Linked DNA regions of Homo sapiens. The protein of the gene in region 2 purifies or fractionates together with the protein of the main gene of each other region. This does not show direct contact. Each region holds a gene or a part of one and is shown on either strand. Other genes may lie near its edges.

What was found.
Region 1: the proteins of PCP4 (region 2) and SCPEP1 purify together in Homo sapiens (affinity purification with mass spectrometry; one large-scale study listed by BioGRID and IntAct). This does not show direct contact.
Region 3: the proteins of PCP4 (region 2) and ATP12A purify together in Homo sapiens (affinity purification with mass spectrometry; one large-scale study listed by BioGRID and IntAct). This does not show direct contact.

Annotation. Positions count from the first base shown.
Region 1 is NC_000017.11:56,981,111-56,984,762, forward strand, and holds part of SCPEP1 (retinoid-inducible serine carboxypeptidase precursor), read left to right. Parts: coding exon 1-120; intron 121-3,652. UniProt on the Homo sapiens protein: May be involved in vascular wall and kidney homeostasis.
Region 2 is NC_000021.9:39,898,291-39,901,942, reverse strand, and holds part of PCP4 (calmodulin regulator protein PCP4), read right to left. Parts: intron 3,468-3,652; coding exon 3,416-3,467; intron 1-3,415. UniProt on the Homo sapiens protein: Functions as a modulator of calcium-binding by calmodulin. Thereby, regulates calmodulin activity and the different processes it controls.
Region 3 is NC_000013.11:24,693,798-24,697,449, reverse strand, and holds part of ATP12A (potassium-transporting ATPase alpha chain 2), read right to left. Parts: intron 3,007-3,652; coding exon 2,872-3,006; intron 1-2,871. UniProt on the Homo sapiens protein: The catalytic subunit of a H(+)/K(+) ATPase and/or Na(+)/K(+) ATPase pump which transports K(+) ions in exchange for Na(+) and/or H(+) ions across the apical membrane of epithelial cells.

The DNA.
Region 1 (3,652 bases), on a different chromosome or scaffold from region 2:
GGCAAGGAAGTATGGGATTATGTGACGGTCCGCAAGGATGCCTACATGTTCTGGTGGCTCTATTATGCCACCAACTCCTGCAAGAACTTCTCAGAACTGCCCCTGGTCATGTGGCTTCAGGTAAAGTAGCTTCCCAGCCTGGCCTGAGGTCAAAGCCAAGTCTCCTCTGTGTGGCTCTTTGCTTGCTTTTTGGGCTGATGTCTCAGCAGTGAAGGGCGGATTTGGTCCAGCAGTGTGACCTGGGGGTTCGGCGTGCTTCTGAGGTAGGCTGAGGCAATGGTATAGCCAAGGAGGCTAAATCAGAGGGCGAGGGGGTTCTAGCCTTTTGCCAGAGTCTCTTTATATTTCCAGACGGTCACAAGAAGGCTCACTGAAAACTCCTGATGATACATTTGAATACATAGTGATAGAAAGTGTTTTGAGGCCGGGCACAGTGGCTCATGTCTGTAATCCCAGAACTTTGGGAGGCCGAGGTGGGTGGATCATACGAGGCCAGGAGTTCGAGACCAGGCTGGCCGACATAGTGAAACGCTGTCTCTACTAAAAATATTTAATACAAAAATTATCCAGGCATGGTAGCACATACCTATAATCCCAGCTACTCAGATGGTTGAGGCATGAGAATTGCTTGGACCCGGGAGGCGGAGGTAGCAGTGAGCTGAGATCGTGCCACTGCGCTCCAGCCTGGGCGACAGAGCAAGACCCTATCTCAAAAGAAAAAAGAAAAGAAAGTGTTATGGAAGGTTCCAAAGCAAAGACCTGAGGTAGCCTGACCCTCCCTTCCTCTCCATACAATCCTTTCCTGAACCCTAACTTCTTACCCCCAGAAAACCTGATCTTTTGAAGGGACTGCTACAAGCCTTCTGCACCTTCGTGTGACTGTTGCGCCTTCCCCCTTTCCCTGAGTGTGTTTGCATTTTAACCTTGAGCTCTGATTGTAGGATGGAAGGCAGGGAGCTGGTTGAAAGATTTGTAGGGACAGGCAGAGGCTCTTTTCTGGCATTTCTGAAATATCTGTCCAGAGATGGCCCACCCCCACCCGGAAGACCACCCACCAGGGAGGAATTAAGGAACATGGTCTTGCCTCTGGAAAATGTAGGCATGGCCCAGCTGGAACCCTGGGCCCCTCATCAGTAAATAGGGACCCTGGTGCTCACCTCCATAGGATGCTACTGGGACGTCTTCCAACAATGCTGGTATTTATAAGCAGCCTCCCACCACCTGGGTTTTGCCTCCCAGGATGGTCGATGCAGACTTTCTGGTGAGATAGAGCGAAAATGAGCAGTTTTCAGGGAGGGGCCTTTCTCTTTTGGAATTATCACTTGTGCCACCTCTGAGGGCTAGAGCTGAGGCTCAGCCCCAGGTGCGGTTATGATAATGCAGAAAAAGAACCCTTGTATGTCAGCCTGGGGAGCCCTGTTCACCTCCGGTGGCTGGAGACAAAGGTGCGGCACAATTGGCAGGGAGAGCCAGGCCGTGGACAAGCTCAGGCCTGCCGTCAGGGGCCTCGGGTTTTCAGTGCCTACCTGCCACTTAGAGCCATGGCAAGATACTTCCTCCTCTGGGCCTTGGCTGTCTAATCTGGGAGATTTTGGTGGTTTTCAAACTTTTTGTTCATCAGCAGAACTTTTCTTTTTTTTTTTTACCCCCAAATGAAAGCTTACAAAGGGGAGACAAAGCAGACAAAAGCACAAGTGCTGAGGCTGAGGCTTCTCCTTTGAAGTTTATCAACTGAAGAGAATAAATTGCTCTTCACTTACCCAGAGACCCAAGAGAGAAGAAGAAAGATTATGCTTACAGAAGAAATAACTAATTTAGATGAAAAGGAGATCTATTTTAGCAGCCTACTGAGGACATGGTGCTGACTTCTCTCGGGGGAATCTTTGAGAATCGAAGTCATGTCTTCTGAGTGGGTTAGCAAACTATGTTAGGGACACTTTCAAGTCTTCGAAGCGTTTCACTTGGTCCACTGACACACTGACTGTGTCTCAGAGTTTCTGGATAGCCCTGGGCCATGCTAGCACCCTATCCCAAAGTTCTAGACAAAAAAGAGGTTTTACAATAGGATATATTCACGTAGAACAGAGGCTTCCTCCATCCAGCATCTCATTGCCTTTTGAGGAGAGGGGAATGAGGAGAGAGGAGAGGGAGAGGTCATCTTCTGCTGTCTCCCTGGCATACCAGAAGCAGAGGAGAACTGAGATTTCTCCCACAAAGACCCAACCCCTAGGATTTCCAGCTTTTCTCCTTTTGCTTTGATCCTACCTCATCCTAATAAGTCCATTAGGAAAAAGGAACCCAGCTTTCATTGGAGGGTAGATCCCTGGCTTTAATTTATTGCATATTGCATTATAAATATTTTTCAATGTTGCCACATCATTTTTCGTAGTTCATGATTCTAAGTGGCAGTGTAGCATTCCATGCAGTAGATGTGGTATGGTTGCCTAACCTGTTCCCCTATTTGGGGGACGTTTGAGTTGCACCCTTACTTCTGTTATTTTTAATAGGACTGCGGTTAACATCTTCATCTGGTTTGTGAACTTTTTACTGCTTAGGAAATCTTAAGATACAAAGGGCATATGATCAGGGGGATGTATAGCCTTCCAATTTTATCAGAGTTAGGTTGGTCCAGGTTCAAAACATTAGTGTTGTAAAGTCTTTCCCTTTTGGGGCCCTCTTGCCGTTGCTAGTTACCCTTTAGCCCTGACTCTATCTTGTCTTTTTTTTTTTTTTCTTTAGATTTCCCTACACAAATTGCCCTGGCTTTTGTTTTGCCCAAGGTATTCCCTTTCATCTTTTTTTTCTTTTTCTTTTTTGAGATGAGGTCTCGCTCTGTCACCCAGGCTGGAGTGCAGTGGCGCAGTCTCGGCTCACTGAAACCTCCACTTTTTGGGTTCAAGTGATTCTCGTGCCTCAGCCCCCCGAGTAGCTGGGACTACAGGCGCACGCACCACACCCGGCTAATTTCCTGTTCTTAGTAGACGCAAGGTTTCACCATGTTGGCCAGGGAGGACTTGAACTCCTCTCGAACTCCTGACTTCAAGTGATCTGCCTGCCTTGGCCTCCCAAAGTGCTGGGATTACAGGCGTGAGCCACCGCACCCGGTCCCCATTTCGTCTTTTCATATCTCCCTTTCCTACCCATCCTGCTAGTGCACAGAGAGGCCATATCCTTTTATTCTAGGTCCTCTGCCCTTTCCCTCGCCTCAGCTGACAGGGCCCTTCTCATAGACTCCCCACCTCAATTGGCCCCTGGATTTGTCCAGAAAAAGCACTGACCATCTTTTCCCCTGACCACCTCCCAAAGAGCCTCCTCTTGTCTCAATTAGAAAGCCCACCCAACCTGTCCTATTTGCCTCTTAGTTTCTTTTTTCTCTGAAGCCCTCAGAGCCCATAGAACTGCCCCCAACACCGAGCTGTGGTTCAGAATCCTGCCTTTCCCTCTCCCATGGATGCTCACAGTATCAAACTCTCCCTGCCCTGGGACTTTAGAAACTGCTGCATTATATCCACAGAATCTGCTTGATCAAACTGCTTCTAAGTCTGGGTCCCTTATCAATCCACAGGGACTCTGAAGAGTCTCCCATCTCCTGGGGAGAGGGTGATGGAGGAAGAGTCAGAAGGCCCAGTGTCTAGTCCGGTTAGAGCTCCTT
Region 2 (3,652 bases):
TTTAGATTACTTCTAGAAGTTTTTACCCTCATCTTTCTTGGGCTGTTCCAGTTTTTGTCTTTGCTCCTTTTTAAAGGCAAAAGCACAGACTTTAAATTATAATAAAGTATCACGTACAAATATCATATATAGGCAGTTTTAGCTGAAATTAAAGTATAGCATGTTAATAATAATTTACATTTATACATTGCCATTATCCAGTAACTGTAAAATAATCTCAAATTCACTTTTCTACCCAAAAGTGACTATCATTTAATATCTAGAATTATCTAATGAAAAGCCTTATTCATAGCATCAGGAATATTTCCATTTAATTAATTTTTATACCTCCATAAAAAACCTCACTCAGTTTCCACTGGTGTGGACTGGTTTTCAGCTAAAAGAAATTCCATGTCTTTGAATGGCAGAAAATGGCATCACTTATAGTAGCCGGTAATTCCCTTTGGTGCAAAGCACTGAGCATGTCAGCATGGTTTGAAAGACCAATAGGATGTCAAGATAAAGCCAAGGGGCAGAGACATCGAACACATAGGACCTAGTCCTGGCTTCGTCACCATGTGCCTGGTCTTCAGGCTCCTCAAGGCATGACATGAGACATGCTGAGCAGTAGTTCCCAAAGTGTGAACCAGGTACCCTGGGGGGTGCCTACATCCTTTAAGGGAGCCCAAAAGATCAAAAACATTTTTGGTCTTATAAAAGATATTATTATTATAAAAGGTAAGAGTTTGATCTTAAAGGATATTATTTGCTCTTTTAAATCTCATACTCTCACAAGTGAGCAGTGGAATTTTCCATAGGCTACACATCACATGATATAACAGATTGAACACAGAAGCCAGTATGAAAATCCAGCTGTCCTCTGTCAAACCAGACTTTAAAGAGAGTTGCAGAAATGTAAAATTGCCACTTTTTACTAAATATCCTTTTCCATTTTGGAAAATATAATGACTTTTCATTTTTTAAAATGTTACTTACATTCACATGTAGTGGGTTTATTATTTTATTTTTAATAAATTAATAAGAAAAACCATTTAAAACTTTCTCCATTTTAATTTCTAATATAGGAGACAGTGTATGGCAGATACACCTGATATCAATAGCGTAACTTAAGCATACCCTGAGAATGACCCTATGGTCTAAGAAGAATGTGTGCTTGGAGTCGAGTTCCGAGCTAAGGAATCTGGGAGTGGCCAGTATAGAGATTCATTCTTATCTATGAGGAACATCTGAATTCCCAGCCCATCCCATGGGATGCAGGCCATACAGGGGATTGGGGACATTTGTTTTGGAATGAATGTAGATTGCCAAGTAGAAGTTGCTAGAGGGAGGGTGCTAAGTGAAAACGCTGTGTAAACTGCATGCTTGTTACAGGCAGCTGTGGTTCTTTTATCCAGCCCACCGCCACTGGACTGCCCTATAGGTAACTCCCCTCAATAAATCCTATGTCTTGTTCACTGGCTCCAGGTCTTTTCTTCAGTACCATCTCTATAAGAGTCAGTAGGGTTCCAGCATGACAAACATCAATAGATATCACCAACATAAACAAAAGTTCTTTGGGGTCCTCAAGAATTCTTTAAAATGGAAAGGAGTTGTGAGAACAAAAATGTTGGCTGGGTGCAGTGGCTCACACCTGTAATCCCACCACTTTGGGGGGCCGAGGCGGGTGGATCAGCTGAGTTCAGGAGTTCGAGACCAGCCTGGCCAACATGGTGAAATCCTGTCTCTACTAAAAATACAAAAATTAGCCAGGCGTGGTGGTGGGTGCCTGTAATCCCAGCTACTCAAGAGGCTGAGGCAGGAGAATCACTTGAACCCTGGAGGCAGACGTTGCAGTGAGCCGAGATTGTCCCATTGCACTCCAGCCTGGGCAACAAGAGTGAAACTCTGTCTCAAAAAAAAGTTGAGAATCACGACAATAGAGGATCTCTGAGAAGTCTTCTGACTGTAAAACTCTAATTCTAAGGTTGTGAGGTTCAGTGGAAAGGAACTTGCATGAACAGATGGCTACGAATGTATGAACTGGGAAAATCAGTGGAGGCTCACAGCGCCCTATGCTCCCCTATGGCAGGCAGTGGGTCCTTCCTCATATAGGCAACTACAATATTGCTCCTCCCTTTTAAGCCCCATCCTTTGCTCCTTCCTCTGCTTCCTGCCTTCCTTGCCAGTACCCCACACACCCACCCCAACTCACACACAGGAGACAGGAAAAGCCCTGGGCAGCAAAGGAAGAGCCATTGGCCTCATGGAAAACCTTGTTTCCTTCTTCTCCCAGCCCCCTAGCTCCAATTAGGACATTGTGGAGCCCCCACCTCTCTACTTATTGATATGATGACCCCTTTACCCAGGGAACACTGCACTCACCCTGCCCAATAGGACTGCCCTAAATGGGTGGGCATATTGGCAGGCTGCAGACGCAGAGCAACATTCTCATACTTGAGTCTTGCTCAGCTCAGACCCACCACAGAGGCTCCAAAGGGGTTGTGAGGCCCCAGGGAATTTTAACCGATGGTATTTGAGATTGGCATTATCCACAATCTGATTGATGGACACTAGCATCAATTTCATCTAGTTGGAAGCAAGAGTCATTTTCCATAAAAGGAGAGTTCATCTTGAGTTAACAGAAAGGAAGAACACCCAGAGTCTCACCTCACCGGAACTATGCTGTGGCCCTTGGTGCATACCACTGGGTATTTTTTATTATTATGCTTGTTCTTATGTCAATTGCTAAAGTTAGAGACCTGGGGTTCCAACTGGCTCTATTTCCTTCAGGATCCATGCACTTCCCATTTCTAGCTAAATCTCACCCCAATGCCAAGCCTCCATTTCCTGATCCATAAAAATATGATGATCATTCCTACAATTTAGGGTCATGGTTGAGATGGGCCCATGAAGAGGCAGGATGCAATGTTCCTGTCACTGCTATCATTTTTATTTGCTGGTGAATCGCTGCAGTGACATTCACTGACTCAGCACCTTCCAGTGGACCAGCACCGCATTGTGTGTGCTCCGGAGGGCTGAAGCAAGTTTTAAAACATCATTTCAGAAGTTGTGTACTTCACAGTTTTCAAATCACTTATCTCGTTTGATCTCATTTTATCCTCACAACAACTTGGATGATTCTCACCCACCCTAATGAAGAAAGCAGAGAACTAGATTTGCATTGTAATTACCATGTTGCCCAAAATGGGAGTCCTCCTATGGAAGGGAAACTTCTTATCACGGCATTTAGCTAGCTCAGTTTTCTTCATAAAACCAGACCTCAGTGCTCACTGTGAATTGCTAAAATCCTCTGTAAGCTGAAGCGCAGACACATATAGTAAGCTGTTTGGGATGGGATGTATGATCCGCACCTGCTGCATACCCAGGGCTGCAGATGGCAAAAGAGAAAGAACTTGGACTATTCATGTCCTCTTACCATTTTCACCAGATGTCTTGTCTTTTCCATTGGTTGCCCCAGCACCTTGTCGCTAAAGGCAAAAAATAAAAGAAAAAAGCAATTGTTATCAGATATACTCGGGATTACTTTTGTCTCTTTTATTGTTGCAAACATCTCTTGCATTATATCAAGTTCTATGTTACTTTAGCTCAGATGGCTAAAGCACTGTGCTAGTGAGAGTAGGAATGGATCCACCAAGAAAGGATGTACTGAAGC
Region 3 (3,652 bases), on a different chromosome or scaffold from region 2:
ATTGCCCAGGCTGGTCTTGAACTCCTGGGCTCAAGCAATCTGCCTTCTTCGATCTCCCAAAGTGCTGTGATTACAGGTGTGAGCCACTGTACCTGGCCAAGATAAGGCTTTTTACATTTAAAACATAGGGATAATATGAAACACTTTTATGGTATGTACCACGTGCCAGGCACTGTTCTAAGTGCTGTCCACATCGACTTATTTATTCTCAAAACAACTTTAAGGCCATGGGTACTATTATTATTCCCTTTTACAAAGGAGGAAACTGAGGCACAGAGGTTCAATGCTTCACTCAGGGTCACTGAGCAATAGGTGGCTATCTGGTGGCTGAGCTGGGATTTGAGCCCAGGCTAGCAGGCTCCAGAGTCCCTGCCCTTAATCATGGTGGCTACAAAGGATAATCTTTTAAATTAAATACATTCATCTTTATATAAAACTTTATAAAACATTTTCCAATTTGCCGTAAACTGTTTCAAATGTCTTAACAGACCAGTGTGTTTGGGGCATCACCATTCTAATCAATAAGACACAGGCTTTCCATTTTATTTCCTTCCCGCAGAGACGTCTCCTTCCAAGGCCATGACATCTAAAGCCCTGGTGAGGCTGAGCACCGCTCATGTGTAGATATAAAATGACCCTAACAGCATCCAGACAGCACCTCCGACCTCTTCAGCAGGAACTCACACAGCCCCTCTCCCCTTTCTTTTTTTTTTTTTTTTTTTTTTTTTTTTGAGACGGAGTCTCGCTCTGTCGCCCAGGCCGGACTGCGGACTGCAGTGGCGCAATCTCGGCTCACTGCAAGCTCCGCTTCCCGGGTTCACGCCATTCTCCTGCCTCAGCCTCCCGAGTAGCTGGGACTACAGGCGCCCGCCACCGCGCCCGGCTAATTTTTTGTATTTTTTTTTTTAGTAGAGACGGGGTTTCACCTTGTTAGCCAGGATGGTCTCGATCTCCTGACCTCATGATCCACCCGCCTCGGCCTCCCAAAGTGCTGGGATTACAGGCGTGAGCCACCGCGCCCGGCCCCCCTCTCCCCTTTCTAGTCCCACTCTGTGTAGCCACTTTCTCCTCCAACTTGTACATGAGGCCTCATGGAACCTGCTTTTTCTCCCTTTTGCAACTGGGCATGCCTTTACCTTGGGAGATGGAGCTTCAGCAGGGCTCCAAGTCCTGCTGCTGATGGAGGCATCATCTAACCCCATCTTCACACTGTGCACTGATGCGCGGCACCTCAACCTCCTCATCCTCTAGCCACCCCACAGTGTTGTCGTGCGAATGAATAATTTAATACTTGTGGAAATTAGCACAGAATAGCTCCTATTATCACTAGTATTATTAGTATAATAATACTCATCCTAAAACAGTCTTTTAGGACTGTTGCGCACTCTATTTTCACTTTGGTTTTACGTAAGAGATGTGGTTTCTTGGCTTGAGTATTTTACATCATATGTTTCTGGTTAGTTGTCTATTTAGCTAACTGTGATTCTCTGTTGGCTCACTATCCACAAAGAAGACATTTGCAACACAAGAGTTCTTCTCTAGGCTGGGCTTGGTGGCTCACGCCTGTAATCCCAGCACTTTGGGAGGCCAAGGCGGATAGATCACCGGAGGTCAGGAGTTCGAGGCCAGCCCAGCCAACAAGGTGAAACCCTGTCTCTACTAAAAATACAAAAAAATTAGCTGGGCAGGGGGTGCATTCCTGTAGTCCCAGCTACTCAGGAGGCTGAGGCAAGAGAATTGCTTATACCTGGGAGGCGGAGGTTGCAGTGAGCCGAGATCGTGCCACTGCATTCCAGCCTGGGTGACAAGAGTGAAACTCCTTCTCAAAAAAAAAAAAAAAAAAAAAAAAGAGTTCTTCCCTAACCCTAAATTCCATCCGAACTAAGACAGGTGGATAATCACCAGAAATCTCCACACGTACAGTTGTGGTTATTCCATTTCTATACTTTACTGTTGTGCAAAGCCCAAGTCCAGATCCAGTGTGGGCTCTGTGGAAAATCCCATCTGCATGGGGACCTGGGGCTCCCAACTGTCATTTGTCTTAACATGGGGAGGCTGTGATGGCTGACTGTCGGCCAGCCCTGCTTGCTGAGATAACCAGGCAAGGAAGGCCGTCTTCTACCTGAGCAGGGGATGGAAAGGAGACCCCCACCCACAGCACAGGGGCTGGCCCCAGAAAACGACGGGGCTGTCACCCCAGGGGCTGCTCACCGGTCTCCCCAAAGGGCAGGGCTTGCTCCCATGGCCTGAACTGTGCCGCACTCCCTCTGTGTGATGGTGGAAGAATCGTGGACCTGGTGTCAGGCTTGGGAACACTGGGTGCTGTGTGACTCTGGTCTCTCAACACTTTCTAAGGGCCTGCTTCCTCCTCTGAGTCAGGATTCGTCAGTCCTACCTCACAGGCCGGATGCGAACATGGAACAAGGCCACGTAGGTCGAGGGCCTGATGCACTAGAGGTGAGAGGAGCAGGTGTTCGGCCTCCCTGCTGCCCACCTGGCATTTATGCTTTGGAGTATGGCTGCTGCTCCTCACGGCAGAAGGTACCTGATAGTGGTGGTGTGAGTGTGTGTGTGTGTGTGTGTGTGTGAGAGAGAGAGAGTGTGTGCCTGTGACAGAGATGGCTCATTCATAGGAGCAGCCAGGCCCTGATGAAGTCCTTGCCTTTCTTTCTTTCTCTGCCCTGCTTCAGGGTTAGGAAGGAGGCCAGCAAGGGAGCTTGACCTAGGGGACCAGATGCCTGGGTGCTGTATCCCTGACGACTGTCTTTGAAGCCAGGTATCCTTCAAAATATGAGGTAAGCAAAGGATGCATGCAAGTAGAAAGGTCATGCTGCCGATGACAGAGATTACCGGTTGTGAGGAAAAACTCACCTGAAATTTATTAGTAGAGTTAAAAGGGATTTCAGCTACTTTGCGGTTTCTTTTTCTAATTTCCATCACATCACCCAAAATGACCTCTGAGAATTTTAAAAGAGCAGTTTCTGAGGCATCTCCAATCACAGCTTTCTGGGAATCAAAGAAGAAAAATATTTGCAGCACATATTTAATGAACCAACATGCCCTCAGCATAGGACCCAAAACACACCCTCCTGATCCCATTACCACCTAGCTGGAGAGACATTATCACGTGATCAGGGAGGGCCGCAAGACCGTGGTAAGCGTGTAAACAACAGTGCCACCTACTGGCATTAGGGATGTTTGGAGAAGCTGGACCTCTGCGAGGACTGAAGATTTCGTGGAAAAAAGCAGCTACGAACTAGATCTTGATAGATAGGTGGGTTACCGATACACAGAGAAGAAAGCCTTCCAGAAACCAGGATGCGGGTGCAGGGGCATGAGGGGCAGGCTCGTCCGTGAGTGTTCAAGGTACAAGCGGATGTGGAGGGTGTGGCAAGACCTGGAGGGCCCTGAAAGGTAGCCTGAGGTCTAGACTTGAGAAGCAGAAAACAGGGAAGTACGGAGAGATTTTGAGCAAAGTTAAGTGACTATAAAAGCACCATTAAGGGAAATTAGTGGCATTCGAGAAAGACCCCAGGAGGGATAAACCGGAATCAAAGAGGTTTAATTCCAATCAGCCGGTAATCGGCTATTTAGATGCAAGGTACTGCTGACAAATACTAAAGTTATGTATATTTTGAAGCAAGAATGATAG